2 separate regions of the Homo sapiens genome follow, and region 1 is linked to region 2. Evidence: fine-mapped expression QTL. A gene starts in region 2. The other region holds a variant in brackets. All regions are shown on one strand. Distances are between the middles of the regions. Region 1 overlaps OSBP2 (oxysterol binding protein 2). Region 2 holds the start of MORC2-AS1 (MORC2 antisense RNA 1).

Evidence for each region. PIP is the estimated chance that this variant, and not a neighbour inherited with it, causes the effect.
Region 1: its variant is fine-mapped to the expression of MORC2-AS1 in whole blood (TOPMed, PIP 0.99).

Annotation. Positions count from the first base shown.
Region 1 is chr22:30,898,214-30,906,213 of GRCh38, reverse strand. It overlaps OSBP2 (oxysterol binding protein 2), which reads right to left. Exons shown (of 14, transcript NM_030758.4): 13 at 145-377; 14 at 1-17. All of the region lies in intron 2 of LOC107985544 (a long non-coding RNA gene), which reads left to right. It also overlaps the pseudogene EIF4HP2. Among named protein-coding and RNA genes, the nearest start is that of MORC2-AS1, 20 kb to the left of the region's middle. RefSeq lists an enhancer at 2,874-2,973. The variant T/G (reference allele first, on the strand shown) is at 3,993.
Region 2 is chr22:30,917,134-30,926,412 of GRCh38, reverse strand. MORC2-AS1 (MORC2 antisense RNA 1) reads right to left here and starts at 4,105. Exons shown (of 2, transcript NR_026920.1): 1 at 3,898-4,105; 2 at 1-1,684. It overlaps MORC2 (MORC family CW-type zinc finger 2), which reads left to right. Exons shown (of 26, transcript NM_001303256.3): 26 at 1-1,283. LOC107985544 (a long non-coding RNA gene) reads left to right here and starts at 4,634. Exons shown (of 3, transcript NR_146603.1): 1 at 4,634-4,825.

The DNA.
Region 1 (8,000 bases), 20 kb after region 2:
GGCATCCGCCTCCTTCTCTGCTGGGCAGGCACAGTGGGCTGGTGGGTGGGCTTGTGGCCTGCTCCCCCGGAATCCGTCCCTGCGGCACCCCCACCCGGGCACCCCTTTCCTCCCCTCCGGGGCGCCCTTCCCGCCCGGCCTCACCTTCCTCCGAGCTGCAGCTGCTGCCCGGCCCGCAGGCCTCCAGCCGCCGGCGCCGCGACAGGCGCTGCTTCTCCTCCAGCCGCTGCTTCTCGGTATTGGCCTCGTCCCAACGGCCCTTCTCCATCAGCCGCTGGTCGGGCCGCAGGCGGCTGTCGGTTGGCGCTACGCCCTCCTCGTGCTCGTTGAGGGTCAGGGCCAGCTCTGAGAAGTAGTACATGTTCTCCGCGTTCTCCCTGTGGCGGTGGTGGTGGCGGTGGCGGTGGCTGCGGTGTGAGCCGGACCACACCTACCCGGCCGCCCTCCCCTGCCTGGCGGTGTCTCCTCCCGGGTCGCCTCACCCTCCAGCTCCCCGCGTCCAGGACTCCCTCTGGCCTTGGGCCCACCCCAGTGAGCCCACCCGGCGGAACCCAGTGGCTGCAAACAGCTGCCTTCTGCTCCCCACACCTCCCATGCTCACATGGCCAACCTGCCGCTGTTTTGCCACATTAGACTTATCTGGGAATTGCCTAGCTTAATATTTCTTGGCTTTTCTTCTTTTCTATTATGTTTTTTTTTCTTCTTCTTTTTTGAGACAGTTTCACTCTTGTTGCCCAGGCTGGAGTGCCTGGCTTTTTTAAGACAGGGTCTCCGCTGGGCACGGTGGCTCACGCCTGTAATCCCAGCGCTTTGGGAGGCTGAGGCCGGTGGATCACGAGGTCAGGAGTTCGAGACCAGCCTGGCCAACATAGTGAAAGCCCGTTTCTACTAAAAATTAGCTGGGCATGGTGGCAGGCACCTGTAATCCCAGGTAATCTACTCAGGAGGCTGAGGTGGGAGAATTGCTTGAACCCCAGGAGGCCGAGGTTGTGGTGAGCCGAGATCACACCATTGCACTCCAGCCTGGGCGACAGTTCGAGGCTCCGTCTAAAAAAAAAAAAAAAAAAAAAAAAAAAAAAGACGGGTCTCGCTCTGTGGCCCAGGCTGGAGTGAAGTGGCCTGATGCTTCGCTCACTGCAACCTCCGCCTCCTGGGTTCAAGCAACTCTCCTGCCTTAGCCTCCTGAGTAGCTGGGATTTCAGGGCATGCCCCCACACCCAGCTAATTTTATTGTATTTTTAGTAGAGATGGGGTTTTGTCATGTTGGCCAGGCTGGTATTGAACCCCTGACCTCAATTGGTCTGCCTATCTTGGCCTTCCAGAGTGTTGGGATTACAGGCATCAGCTACTGTGCCCAGCCCATATGGGGATTTTTCTAGTCATTTTTTTCTAGTATAATTGCCTTGGAGTCAGACAATATACTTGGCATAATTTCAGTCCTTTGAAATTTGCTTTATGGCCCAGTATATGGGCAGTTTTTGCACACGTTCCATGTGATTGAAGAGAACAGTTGTTGAGTGCAAGGTTGTATAACTGTCCAGCAGGCCTTGTTCATACTTTCTCTACTTGGGTTGTAGTTAGTCCATCTTTCCTAATGTGTGTATATATATATATATATTTTAATTATGTAAGCATTTCTTTTGTTGAAAAGATCCTTCAAAAAATACCATATCCATAGATTTACTTTCTGTCATATAGCTGAATGTGTTGTGTTTGGAATTCCATTCTTACATTTAAAAATCAACTGGATTGCCCAGAAGTTTAGATGCATTTGTTTTGTTTATCTTATCCATGTTGAAGATGTAAGTAGATGATCTGAAAGCATCAGGTTTGATTACACCACATAATGCATGTCTTTCTTAAGTATTGGTGTTACAGAAATGGTTCTTATCTCAGAAGCAGAGAAGCTGACAGGTGGAAGGAAGGAGAGAGAGTTCTGTGGATTGCGGAGGGCTTGTAACAAAGATACAGTAGGAGAAGCCAAGGATGACAGCTGGTGACCAATTACTAAGCACACTACACTGGGCGCCCCAGGCTGCCCTGCCATCACCCTGCAAGGGTCTCTTTCCTAGGCCCTTGCTGCCAGCCACCCCCCAACTGCTCCCCAAAGGGAAGACTGGGATTTGGGTACTGAAGGATTTTTCATCTGTTCACACGCGGGCGTTCAAGCTCAAAAGCCTAACCACTACCACTCCCAGGTAAGTGCTGAACCCTGCACATGGGAACAACCAAGTGTGTCCCCAAGATGCAGCCTCAGACCTAGACAGCTACAGTCCTATACGATCATCTGAAGGTCCTGACAGCTCTGCACAGTACAATTTCATTTATCAAGGGAAATGAGTAAAGTGCCAGATTCTAGACCCATTTTGGCTATGAATTGAAGGGGAGGTGGGAAGCACAGTATCTCATTATGTTGCCTGTACTAGGAACAGATAAACACAAACACACAGGCAACAGGGATTTGGGGAAACACCGTGTCAGCGCTGCAGTCAGCCAAGCGCAGTGCCGGCGCTATCCCCCAACCCTCAAAGTGCCTTGGCCCAGGAGAAAAGAAACCCGCTGGCCATTCACTGCAGCTGGCCAGAGAGGGGAACCTCGACCATGTCTGGTGAAAGGAGTGAACTCATTGGGACACAGCCTCGAAAAAGCAGTAACAAAAACACGTGAATGCCTACGAACATTCACTGTGTTTTCTCCGTGGACTCCCTACTGCTATTCCACGGTCTCCACTTTCAGCTCTCGCTGTTTCTCGTGTGAGCCTATCCCTTTGGACAGTCCACTTTGGGAGGGGGTCATGGAGCCAGGGCTCCCTCTCAATAGGAATGGAAAGGACCCTGCAAGAATCAACACCTATTTTTATCCTAGTTGTGAAAACAAGGTGCCTCCAATTCTCTATGTCCATCACAGCTGAATACCAACAAGGTGCAGTTCAGTCTGTCAGTGACTTCTGGTTTTTGTTGGAAGCCAACGCAATACAGAACTCAACATGCAGGTCAGAAGAGAAACACTGAGGAAGTGAAAGGAAACACCTGGAGTCGGGCCAATGTCTAAAGTAAAAAGAGAAAGCAAAGGAGAAAAATGATGCAGTACCGCAGCCCAAACGACTCCCCCACATGGCCACCTCCGATCCTCTGGGGAACCCCATGTGCTGCTAGGAAAACGAGCTGGGAGGAAAAGGACAGAAGGAAAATGGGGAAGCAGTGGTAGAAAGAAAAAAACGCACAAACAGGCACTAGATAGATACAGCAAAGCCCAGAATGTACTAAAAACCACTTGTTGACAGCTGGCATGCACTCACAACAAGCTGTGTTTCCACTGTGGGGAGGCCAGTGGCAGGTATGGGAGTGGAAGCTGCAGGAACATGGCCCAGGGGTTCACCAGGCTGTGGTCCTGCTCCAACCCCCCATGTTCCATTCCCTCCCAACCGCAGGCTCATTCTTGCTCCTTGTGAACGAATTCCACTCTGGGTCTGGCACCCCTGAAGATAGCAGAGTTGGGATCGGCTACTTCATTGAGGGGCGTCACAACATTCGAGGTTTAAGCTGGAGTCGTGGTCTTTGTGCTCTTCCCTCCTCTGTCGGTTCTTTGAAATCCATGTTGGATCGTGGAAGGGAGGACCATCTCTGAAGTGGCTGCCCAGTTGGGGGCCTGTTTCCCAGTCACCTGGGTGACTACCTCCCCTGCCTCCTAAGAAGTCATCCCTGAAGCTTCGTCATCTGGTACACCTTTTCTGAATCCAAAGCCACCTTTATCTTGTTTTCTGCCTTCTGCAATGTCCACATGAAGTGACTGATTGCCCAACAGTGCACCATCGTATGTCAAGCTTCCTTAAGGGAATCCACTTCATCGAATTCTATATAGCAGAATCCTTTAAATTTATCTGTGTCTTTGTCTCTGACTACCCGTACACTCCTTATGCTGAGATCCTTAAAGATAGCATCTATGTCGCCCTGAACCATATTAAAAGGTAGATTCCCTACATATGCTGTGTG[T/G]GGGGCTCTGTGAGCGACTCCTTCTGGCTACGGGAACCATGGCCACCAGTACTGCCGTGGGACCCTCTGTTTTTTTTTTTTGGTTTTTTTTTTTTCGTTTTTTTTTTTTTTCTTATATTGCTAAGATTTACCTACGTTGCTTCATGTTACTGGGGTTTAGTTTTAGCTACTGTATATATTCCTTCATGCGAATGTACCACAGTTATTCATTCAATAAATTTGTGTTGTTTCCAAGTTTTTGTTATTGGAATAGTCTCATGCATAAGTCCTGTTGTACATTTGCAAGAATTTCTCGAGTATATTTTTACAAGTAGAATTACTGGGTTATGACTATGTGATTGTTCATCTTTTTTTGTGGGGGGACAGAATTTCACTCGTCGTCCAGGCTGGAGTGCAGTGGCACCATCTCGGACACTGCAACCTCCACTTCCCAGGTTCAAGCACTTTTCCTGCCTCAGCTTTCCGAGTAGCTGGGATTACAGGTGTGTGCCACCACGCCTGGCTAATTTTTATATTTTTAGTAGAGACAGGGTTTCACCAGGTTGGCCAGGCTGGTCTCGAACTCCTGACCTCAGGTGTTCCACCGGCCTTGGCCTCCCAAAGTGCTGGGATTACAGGCGTGAGCCACCACGCCTGGTGGAAAGCCAAACTGTTTTCCCGAGTGTTGTACCAATTTACAACTTTTGCCAGCAGCAATGTATCAGAGATATTGTAGCTCTACAGCTTCTTCAACATACATGTTTTTTATGTGATGACTGGCCATATATGTTTTTTCTGCAAAATTCTTGTTCATGACTCTTGCACATTTTCCCATTATTTTTACATTAATTGTTGATTAGAAGTTCTTTATGTGGGCTGGGCATGGTGGCTTTTGCCTGTAATCCCAGCACTTTGGGAGGCAGAGGCAGGCAGATCACCTGAGGTCAGGAATTTGAGACCAGCCTGGCCAACATGGCAAAACTCCATCTCTACTAAAAATACAAAAATTAGTCGGGCGTGGTGGCGCACACCTGTAATCCCAGCTCCTCAGGAGGCTGAGGCAGGAGAATCGCTTGAACCCGGGAGGCGGAGGTTGCAATGAGTCGAGATCACATCACTGTACTCCAGGCTGGGCGACAGAGTGAGACTCCATCTCAAAAAAAAGTTCTTTATGTGATCTTTTAAAAATTTTTATTTTTAACTATGATAAAATACTCTGTATTCTTGATAATAATCCTCTGTCAAGTGTAGGTAGATATTATGATTACCTTCTCCAAGTTTGTTTATGCATCGTCTTTTCACTTTCTTTAAATTGCCTTTTAGTGAGTAAAAGTTCTCAATGAACAAAAGTATTTTAATATGGTCAAATATATGAATGCTTGTGTCTTAATATTTCCTTAGGGTCTAAAAGATATTTATCCTTTTCAACTTATTAAGTCATTGTTTACAATAAGTCAAACAATATTACTGTAAGGCCATTATTTGATTTTCTTTATAACGTGAGGGAGGGATTAAGTGCATCTTTTTCCATAGGGATTCATTTGGTGAGCCATTCCATCTTCCCACAAGATCTGATATGCCACCTTTGTCATATATCAGAGGTACATATATCCATGGGTCTGTTTCTGGGCTCACTAATCTGTTCCATTAGAGTTTCAAAATAAAAATCCTGGTATCTAGTAGGGTAAGTCCTCTCTGGTCTTCTTCAGAAATGTCTTGGCCCTTTATTCCTCAATATAAATTTAAAAATTCTAATATCAAGTTCCATGAAGGTCCCTATTGGGGTTTTGTTTGATTTACTGACTTTTTAAATCATGACATCTTTACAATACTTTCTATCCGTGAACATTATATCTTTCTCCATTTATTTAGCTCTTCTTTGGTATCTCTTATTAAAGCTGTATAATGTTCTCTATAGAGGTCTGGATTATATTAGATTTATTACAAGGTCCTTGATGTTATATGCTGTTAATTTTTTTTTTTTTTTTGAGATGGAGTTTCGCTCTTGTTGCCCAGGCTGGAGTGCAATGGCATGATCTTGGCTCACCACAACCTTTGCCTCCTGGGTTCAAGTGATTCTCCTGCCTCAGCCTCCAAAGTAGCTGGGATTACAGGCATGCGCCGCCACGCCTAATGTCGTATTTTTAGTAGAGATGGGGTTTCTCCATGTTGGTCAGGCTGGTCTCAAACTCCCGACCTCAGGTGATCTGCCTGCCTTGGCTTCCCAAAGTGCTGGGATTACAGGCATGAGCCACTGCGCCCAGTCTTGGTGTCTTATCTTAAATTGCATTTTTCTAGTTGTTTGCTGAAATGCAACTGGCTTTCGTATATTAATCTTGTATCTAGGCACCTAAAATGATTTTTCTGAATCTATTGAAATCTGTTAATATGATTACTCTATGGATTTTCTAATATAAAATCATTCTATATACCCAGGATAAATTCAACCTGATTATAGGATGCTATCTTTTTTATACACTGTTGGATTGGATTTTCTGATATCGTTTTAGATTTTTGCTTATATATTTATTAATATAAGTGAAATAGGGTAGAACTTTTATTTTCCTACTGCTAGTTTAGCCTAATTTGGTATGAGGGTTATCCTGGCCTCACAGTTTAGGAGAGGTGAATATTTCCTTTTTCTATGATCTGGAACACTTTATATGAAATTGGAATAATATGTTTCTGAAAAAATAGGGAGAATTCATCTGTAAAATTATCTGGGCCTCGTGTTTTCCTTACAGTAATTTTTAAACTATTGCTTCAGTTACTTTATTATAGGACTATTCATGTTTTCAATTTCTTCTAGAGTCAGTTCTTTTTCTTTTTTTTTTTTTTTTGAGATAGGGTCTGCTTTGTCACCCAGGCTGGTATGCAGTAGTAGTCATGGCTCACTGCAGCCTCGACTTCCTGGGCTCAAGTAACCTTCCTGCCTCAGCCTCCTGAGTAGCTGGGACTACAGGTGTGTACTACACATGTGTACTACAGGTGGGACTACACATGGCTAATTAAAAAAATTTTTTTTTTGTAGAGACAGGGTCTTGCTGTTGCCCAGGTTGGTCTTGAACTCATGGGCTTAAGCAATCCAACTGCCTTGGCTTTCCAAAGTGCTGGGATTATAAGCATGAGCCACTGTGCCCAGCTAGAGTTAGTTCTTGTTATATTTTTCTAAGAATTTGTCCCTCCAATCTAAGTTTTAATTATGTCTTTATACTTTATATGTCACATTAAACCTTTTTCATTAATATTTATTTCTATCTTGATCAGTCTTGTCAGTAGTTTTCTATTTTGACAGTTTTTTTATGCCTCAAAGAATCAACTTTTGGCTTTGTTTTTTTAATTGATTTCTGCTTTTATTATTATTATTATTATTATTATTAATATAAAGATGATATCTTGCCATATTGCCCAGGCTGGTCTCAAATTCTTCAACTCAAGCAATCCTCCCGCCTCAGCCTTCCAAAGTGCTGGGATAATAGGGTTTGGCTGTGTCCCTACCCAAATCTCATCTCAAATTGTAATCCCCACATGTCAGGGGAGGGACCGGGTGGGAGGTGATTGGACCATGGGGGTGGTTTCCCCCATGCTATTCTTGTGATAGTGAGTGAGTTCTCACTAGATCTGATGGTTTTGTAAGCAGCTGTTTCCCCTACTCTCTGCTCTTTTCCTGCTGCCTTGTGAAGAAGGTACTTGCTTCTCCTTCACCTTACGCCATGATTGAGTTTCCTGAGGCTTCCCCAATCAATCAGGCAGAACTGTGAGTTAATTAAACCTTTTCTCCTTTATAAATTACCCAGTCTCTGGTGGTATCTTTATAGCAGTGTGAAAATGGAATACAGGAGATTATAGGCATGAACCACCACGTCTAGCCAAAATTATTATTATTTTTTGAGACAGGGTCTTGCTCTGTCACACAGGCTAGAGTGCAGTGGTGTGTTCACAACTCACTGCAGCCTCGACCTCCTGGGCTCAAGTGATCCTCCCACCTCAGTCCTCCTGAGTATCTGGGACTACAGGCATGTACCATCA
Region 2 (9,279 bases):
TTCTCCTACAGGAGGAACAATGTGGGGATCTGAGGGATGGGAGGGAGACTTCCCCCTAGAGTGGTGGTCCTGCTGGGGGCTCATATCCAGGGACCCAAAAGGGGGGCTGTGTAGGAGGTTCCACATTGGAGGGGCTCTCTCTCTCGCAGCTGTCAGAGTTGGTCCTGGCTGTGGCGTCCAAACAGCTTGAGGGAAAAAGATCCTGTCTAACCACCTCATCTACTACTCAAGTTCTTTCTGAAGGAGGGATTTCTTCAGTTAACCATGGACAGTGAGGTTTCTCACCACAGTAACTTGAGTCCAGGTTGAGGGGGAGACAGATCTGTGGTAAATCTCTGACTTGGGCAGCACACTGAGTGTGGAACCCCACAGGACTCCTTAGGGAAGGAGCTTGTGTGTGAAAGAACCCCTGGGGCTGAGCTGGTGACCTCCATGTGTGGGTGCAGCAGGGCCTTGGATGGTGCCAATTGATCTGGACAGCCTGTTGATGCTTTTCTACTTCCACCCTTCGGCCTGGCCCCACTGAGCCCCATCAAGGTGCCTGAAGAGGGGGCCAGTGAGATCCCGTGGCCACAGGGACTCCAGAGGCATCTCTGCAGGAAGCACACCATGCCTTCCCTCCATGTTCCATCACGGCGCCACAATCTGTGTCCCTTAACTTCTCAGGGTCAAAGACAAAGGCAAGCGTTGCTGAATTTTCTCTTTAATGGCCATTGGAAGAGTCTGGTTCAGTTTTTCCCAACTCTCTTCCCACTCGTATTTGGGGCCTCTGGGTTTTCTGAAGGCACAAGGACTGTGACTTTGTACCACTAACCTGTGGTTCAAACCTGGGTGTGTTTCTGGCATCTCCCTAACCCAGATCAGCAATGGCCACCCTGCTCCTCTGAGGTCAGCAGAAGACTGGGAAGCAGAGGTGAGGGATGCAGGCCACACTGGAATGGGAAGTCTTTTCCCCACTGGATGTGCCTGTCTGGTGGGTTTTGGACCTTCCCAGACTACATCTCTAGGAGAGGCCTGTTTGGAGTAGTACACTGAGAGACCCTGGCCTCTTCTGCTGGAAGACTGTCCAAGTCTTGGGGTTTCTTGAGCTGGTGATTCCTCTGCCATCCTGCTCTCTCTCTTCATCTCAGGCAGCATGGGGTCCACTTTTGTCCCCAAACCTAATGTTTTAATCCAAATGCAAATTGGTTCCACATTTTTACTGGAGGGTAATCAGTTTTTAAAATTCACACACATGTAATCGAAACGCAATACTATAAAGTTCTACTGGTGAGACTCCTGAACTCAGTCTGTTTTCTTAGTAAAATCCAGCACCTTCCTTCTCTTCATTCTTTGTATCACTGTGGCTTTAAACTGTCTTCAAGTTATTCCTCCTCATCACCTCCATTGTTTTATCTTCACCCCCTTAACATCCACAGAAACAGACTGGAGTTCTTGAATGTTTTAGCTTCAACTTCTACATGTGCCCACTTTGCTTTGTTAATGCTACCACAGCTGTGCTGAATGAAGCCTGTTTCCCAGGCAGAGATCCTGCCACTCTGGATGGGAAGATAAAATGCAGGGGTCCTCTTTCCTGGTTTCCTGGGAACATCAAGGGACAGGTGACCAGCTTGGAACTCTTTGATGACTTGGAAGGAGGAAGATGGTCTGGCTGATCTGTGGTGAGAAGGTCCTTTGCACAAGGCTGCAAGAAAGTGAAGGGCAGCAATGCTGGTGTTTAAAGAACGAGAGGGGTGGGGACTCTAGGGTGTTTTGTTTGAGATGGGGGTCTCGCCCTGGTCACCTAGGCTGGAGTGCAGTGGCACGATCTTGGCTCACTGATACATCTGCCTTCCAGGCTCAAGTGATCTCCCACCTTAGCCTCCCAGGTAGCTGGAACCACAGGCACACACCATCATGCCTGGCGAATTTTTTTTGTATTTTTGGTAGAGTTTCGTCATGTTGCTTAGGATGGTCTCAAACTCCTGAGCTCAAGTGATCCACCTGCCTCGGCCTCCCAGAGTGCTGGGATTACAGTGTGAGCCACCATGCCTCACCTAGGGTGTTTGGTTTTTAAGTGAAACATGCACATGGTAAACATTAAAACCGTCTAAAAGGCTGGACCATGAAAAGCAAGGCTCCCTTCTCCCACCCAATCCCTGAATTCTCCCTGGAGAGTATCCCTCCTAAGTGCACGCACTTCCACTCTGTTCCATTTCTGCCTGTTAAAACTACTTAGTGCAGCTTAGTGTAGTGGAACCTGCTTCAGAATAACCCATATGGGTCTTCTTTATTCTCATGAACCACAGAGCATTTCATGTGTTGGATATATTGTCTCCTACTTACGGACATTTGGGGTTGTTTCTGTTTTTGTTTGTTTTGTGACGGACTCTTGCTCTGTCACCCAGGCTGGAGTGCAGTGGCACAGTCTCGGCTCATTGCAACCTTCACCTCCTGGGTTCCAGCGATTCTCCCCTCTCAGCCTCCCAAGTAGCTGGGACTACAGGTGCGTGCCACCATGCCCAGCTAATTTTTGTATTTTTTGGTAAAGACAGGGTTTCACCATGTTGGCCAGGCTGGTCTCAAACTCCTGATCTCAAGTGATTTGCCCGCCTTGGCTGGGATTACAGGCATGAGCCACTGCACCCGGCCAGTCACCATTTTCATCCGGTAACTTGCAATGCACCAGGCCTTACCAGGGCCACTGTTGGGTTCAGCGGACATTTCCTTCTTCAAGCTGGCAAGGCCTCAGACAAGTCACTGCCCATTTTGGCTCCTGTTCCTCCTCTAAAATAACGGAGTTGGGTGATGGCAGAGGCTTTCCAGCTTATTCAGCCTCAGGAGTACCTAAAATTTATCCAGAAGCCCATATGGAAAGCCAGGAGTCCTGGAGCTGCTCTGGTTGAAGCTAGGATGGGGGCCCAGAGCTCCCTGCTGTTCTTGACCCCCAAATCTTTGCTTCCAAGATTCACTGGCCCCTACCTGCTACCTGTAGGCCTTCACCTGCTTACTTGTGTCCGATGTAGGGATTATGGGCTTACTCAGCAGCCATCCTCATGGCCTAAACATTTGGCCAATTTCAGTGTCCCCGAAGGGTGAAGGAGGTCTGGGCTTCCATGGGGCCTGAACTGCAGGTACCTTCAGCACTTCCTGGGGTTCTGGACATGTCAACAGCTGCCCACCAAGGCCTGGAAGATAAGGAGGGCTCACACCACTAGTGCAAACTTGGATCAATGAGAAGGGAAGGATGCGACAGACGTATCCCTCCTCTTTTCTTGTCCCCTCTGGATTCTGTTGAGATGCTTCCAGGGATTCTCCGAGGCCCCTTCCTGCTCCAGTAACTGCAGGTTACTGGGGAAGCTGTGGCCAGCTCTAATCCCCTACTTTTTTTTTTTTTTTTTTTTGAGACAGTCTCGCTCTGTAGCCCAGGCTGGAGTGCAGTGGCGCCATCTTGCCTCATTGCAACCTCTGCCTCCAGGGTTCAAGCGATTCTCCTGCCTCAGCCTCTCTAGTAGCTGGAATTACAGGCGCGCGCCACCACGCCCGGCTAATTTTCGTATTTTTAGTAGAGATGGGGTTTCGCCATGTTGGCCAGGCTGGTCTAGAACTCCCAGTCTCGAGAGATCCATCTGCCTCAGCCTCCCAAAGGGCTGGGATTACAGACGTGAGCCACAGCGCCCGGCCTAATCCCCTACTTTGATTTACTGTCCCTCCCCACATCATTTCTTCCCTTATTGAAAGCTCTGGGTCCTCCCCAATGCCCCACCATGTAAACCAATCTGTCCTGCTGGGTTTGGGGCACCGCGGTGGGCAGGGGAGAACCCGTTTGTCAGAAGGTTCAGAGTTTCTGAGTTCCTCATGCTTAATCATCAGCGGCCACAGCACAACAGTGGCCGAGGGTGGGTTGTAAATTCTCACCTGGCCTAGAGGACGCAGCCACGACCCCAGCGCTTGGCCATCTCTGTAGAGGATTCGCGGGTGGACCATGCTTAGTCTAACAGGGTATGGTTATTAACGCCCGTTATGAACGGTTCATAACCAGCCAACGGTTATGAACTGTGGAGGGCTTCCGCAATCCCGCCACACGCTCGAGGCGGAAGCGACAAGACGCCTGCGTGGTTTTGCTGGCGCGCCGCACGTGCCCGTACCGTGACCTGCGCATGCGCTTTGGAAGCCTCGCGAGCTTCCTGCGGCACTCAGGGTTTGGTGCAGGTGCCTGTGGCCTTTGGGGGTTTCCTCGCGTCTTTTAGGTAGATGCTTCCAGGGATTCTCCGAGGCCTCTTCCTACTCCAGTAACTGCAGGTTTCTGGGGAAGCCGTGGCCAGCTCTAATCCCCTACTTTTTTTTTTTTTTTTTTTTTGAGACAGTTTCGCTCTGTCGCCCAGGCTGGAGTGCAGTGGCGCCATCTCGCCTCACTGCAACCTCCGCCTCCAGGGTTCAAGCGATTCTCCTGCCTCAGCGTCTCTAGTAGCTCCTTACAGGGAGAGCAATGGCCCACTCACACCCGAAACAGAGAAGCGAGGATTTTTTTTTTTTCCTGCAAGCTGCTGCGCATTAATTAAGTCAAAGTGCAGAAGAAATCTTTTCTACCCCGGCTTTCCAACTTTCCGGGGGTCATTAGGGAAAAACATTCGTTGAACAGATGTCCTTAGGGTCGGCGCTTTTATCTCTGAAAGGAAGAACACTTGGAAAGGAAGCTGCGTGTTTTTCCTCTTGCCCGGAAGAGCCAGCCTGTATGTCTCCCTTTTGACCCGAGGCCAAGCGCCTGAAGCCTCTTGGACTTAGTTAACATTAGTCCGTTTTCTATGCGTTTGTCCTTGGCTTGGTTTATGGTGTTTGTTGAAAGGTAAATGTTTTAAAGTTTTGGGGATTCCTATCATGCTTAGGGAAATCAATCCCCTTCTCTCTTCTCCCCTTCCCCCGATATTCTCTTACATTTTGTTGCAATGTTTATTATTTATTTTTTACTAGACAACCTATAGTCCTTATGGAATATATTTTAGTATAAGCTGTAAGGCAAGAGTCAAGCGTCTCCCGCCCCCAGGTGGAAATTAACTTATTCCAGCCCCACTTATTAAATGAGCCTCTTACTAAATGAGCCAACAGGTGTGGACCTGTTGAGTTTGAGATCCCGCTTAGACGCCAGTGGAGACATCTGTGGTCAGTTGCACAAGTGAGTCTGATGTGAGGGGTGAGGTTCTGGCTGAAACTATAATTTTGGGCGTCATCAGCATCTAAATAGATCAGTCTCCCTCACTTGTTAAAAAATGCTTTTCCAGTCTTAGAATGTATTCTCTCACATGAAATATTTAATCGCATTATCCAGTTCGTTCCCATCCCTGCCTAAAAGAAAGTGTTCCATTGGGATTTAAATTATAATTGCATTAAATTTAAATGGAAGTTTTGGGAGCATTGACATTTTTGTGATATTAATCCTCCCCCAGAGGATAAAAAATGGCTTTCCATTTACTCAAGACTTCTTTTAGGTCCTCCAATAAGATTTTATAAATTCTTTATACGGGTTCTATAACTTTCTGGTTAAAATTATTCCTAAGTGTTTTATGGTTTTTGTCTATTGTGATGGAATACTTTTTTCCATCTGTATTACTCATTGATTATTAATATGTAGAAAAGCTAATGATTTAATATAATTCACTTTCTGTCTTAGGAATTCTGGTAGTTTTAATAAGCCTGTTTTTTATAGATACAAATTTGCCAGTATACCAATTTATTTTGTCAGTTTGCTTTAGTTAGAACCTCTGAAACAATGTTGAATAATGATCCCGGGCTGTTTCTGATATGCGTGGAAATCCGCATGTGAGAGTTGAGCGGTGAGAGTTTCGGCAAGTGGCTTTTAAAATGTTGGGGTTTCCTTTAGTTTGTCTTGCGGCTGCTGGGACTCACCGGTAGTTGCCAGTCCTGCCTGAGTTGGGCGCCAGGGGGCAGCAGTCACACAGAATGAAACGTGGGCTGTGCCCCCTGGAAACTGGCTGAATTTTGTCAAATGCCTTTACACCTTCTATAAAAAAAAAAAAAACATAGAGTTTTCTCCTTTATGCTGCTGTTTTTATTTTCAATTAGACATTGAGTAGCTATGAAAGAATGCTGTATAAAATATTTGTAAAGGAGGCCTGAAGCGGTGGCTCACGCCTGTAATTCCAACACTTTGGGAGGCCAAGGTGGGCAGATTGCTTGAGCCCAGGAGTTGGAGACCAGCCTGGGCAACATAGCAAGACGCCATCTCCACATTAAATACAAAAATTAGCTGGGTTTGTGCTGAGGCCGAGGTGGGAGAATCGCTTGAGCCCGGGAGGTGGAGGCTGCAATGAGCTATGATCGTGCCACTGTACTCTAGCCTGGGTGACAGAGTGAGAAACTGTCTTTAAAAAAAAAAAAATTATAAAGCAGAAAAAGTATACATCAAACACCCATCACCTGGCTTGTTATATTATAAATCCCTGTGTGTCTTTCCTGGACCCCTTGTCTCCCTGCTCAGAGGTCACCATCATCCTGAATTGTGTTTATTACTCTTAGTATTTCATTTTATAATTATGTTTCTTTACTCTTCATTATATTTTTATGAGCTCTGTGTATTCCTGTTTTATTTTGCCCTAAGTGTTTTATTTTGCTTTGTTTTTGAACTTAGATGGACATAACGTTTTATTGTTTTGCGGTTTTCTTTTTTTTTATTTTCAACATTGTGTTCCAGAAAATCATCCATGTTGTTGGATGTAACTGTAATTTATTCATTTTCACTACTGTATAGTATTCTGGATGTTAACCTAAATAACAATAAAGAGAGGTTCTCAAAAGAAAATATACTTATTTAGGAACAAAGCATTGCAAATTTATGTATATATGTCTTTTCTTTTAGAGAGCCTCTTTGTTATTTGGGTTGCTACATCACTGCCGAATACTAGACAGTAATGAAAATGAATGAATTACACCTGCAATTGAACATAATACAATTTTAAATGCATTCCTCTGAGACTGGCAACTGTGCATTGTTTATGTCTCCTGTTGCATGTGTGCAGGACTTTCTCCCTGGGACAGCTGTCCCCAACATTTTTGGTACCAGGGACTGGTTTCATGGAAGACAGTTTCTCCATGAACTGGGGTGGGGGATGGTTTTTGGGATGATTCAAACGCATTACATTTATTGTGCACTTTATTTCTGTTATTATTACATTGTAATATATAATGAAATAATTATACAACTCACCATAATGTAGAATCAGTGGGAGCCTGAGCTTGTTTTCCTGGAGCTAGATGGTCTCATCTGTGGGTGATGGGAGACAGTGACAGATCATCAGGCATTCGATTCTCATCAGGAACATGCAACCTAGATCCCTTGCATGCGCAGTTTACATAGGGTTCTTGCTCCTATGAGAATCTAATGCCGCCGCTGATCTGACTGGAGGCAGAGCTCAGGTGGTAATGGGTAATGGGTAGCGGCTGTAAATACAGATGAAGCTTTGCCTGCTTGCCTGCAGCTCACCTGCTGTGGGTCTGGTTCCTAACAGGCCATGGACTGGTACCAGTCCGTGGCCTGAGGGTTGGGGACCCCTGCCCTAGGATATAAACCTTGGAGTAGAATTGCAGAGTCATAGTTCATGCCCATTTCCACTTTACTAGGTAATGCCAGAACCGGTTGTGTTAATTTTCACACTCATTGGCACTGGATAAGTGCTTTGTCTACTTTGTTGCCTGTGCTTGATATTGCTAGACTTGAAATGTTTTGCCAGTCTGATGAGGGCATAGTGGTATCTAAGTGTGGTTTAATTTACATTTTTCTGATTTCCAAAATGTGGTTGAGCACCTTTTCTTATATTTATTGACCATTTATTTTATTTATTTTTATTTATTTTTGAGACAGGGTCTTGCTCTGTCGCCCAGGCTGGAGTGCAGTGGCACAATCGCAGCACGCTGCAACCTCCACCTCCTGGGCTCAAGGAGTCCTCCTGCCTCAGCCTCCCAAGTAGTTAGGACTACAGGCATGTGCCACAATGCCTGGCTAATTTTTGTATTTTTCGTAGAGACAGGGTTTCGCTATGTCACCCTGGCTGGTCTTGAATTCCTGGACACAAGCGATCCGCTTGCCTCAGCCTCCCAAAGTGCTGGGATTACAGGCATGAGCCATTGTGCCTGGCCTTATTGACCATTTAGCTTTCTGTGATGAAGTGTTTGCTCAAGATTTGGGCCCATTTTTCTATTTTATCTTTTTCTTATTTGAATTTTGTATATTCTGGAGACATGTTCTTTATAAGTTATCTGTGTTGCAGATTTTTTCTCCTATTCTTTGGTATGCCTTCTTTTTTATTCTCTTTTTACAGAGTCTTGAGGACTAGGAATCCTTAATTAAAAATGTAGAATAATAATTTATCAGTCCTTTATTTATAGTTTTATTGTAACTTGTTTAAGAAATACTTCTTGGCCGGGTGCAATGGCCCACGCCTGTAATCCCAGCAATTTGGGAGGCCGAGGCGGGCAGATCACCTGAGGTCAAGAGTTTGAGACCAGCCTGGCCAACATGGTGAAACCCCAACCCTACTAAAAATACAAAAATTAGCTGGGGTGTGATGGTGAGTGCCTGTAATCCAGCTACTCAGGAGGCTGAGGCAGAAGAATTGCTTGAACCCGGGAGGCAGAAGTTGCAGTGAGCCAAGATTGCACCATTGCACTCCAGCCTGGGAGACAGGAGCAAAACTCCATCTCAAAAAAACAAAACAAAAGTAAGAAATACTTCTCTACCCTGAGGTCATGAAGATATTTTGTATTATCTTCTAAAGTCTTTATAGTTTTGTCTTTCACATACGGATGGTCCCTACCTTAATGATGGTTTGACTTAGGATTGTTTTGACTTTATGATGTTGTGAAAGCAATACCCATTCAGTAGAAGCTGCACTTTGAATTTTGAATTTTCATCTTTCTCCAGGCTAGCAATATTCTATAAGATATTGTGATGCCAGGCAGTGGCGGTGAGCTGCAGCTGTCAGCCACAAGGGTAAACGTTTGATACTCTATAGTGTACAGTGTTCAATAAATGATGTGAGATATTCAACACTCTATTATAAAAACAGGCTATGCGTTAGATGATTTTGCTCAACTGTAGGCTAAGGTAAGTGTTCTGAGCTCATCTAAGGTAGGCTAGGCTAAGCTATGATGTCCTGTAGGAGTATTAAATGCATTTTTAACTTATGATATTTTTGACTTATGATGGGTTTATTGGAACATAACCGTATTGTCAGTTGAGGACCATCTATGTAGATTTTTTTAAAAAAATTATTATTGTTATTATTT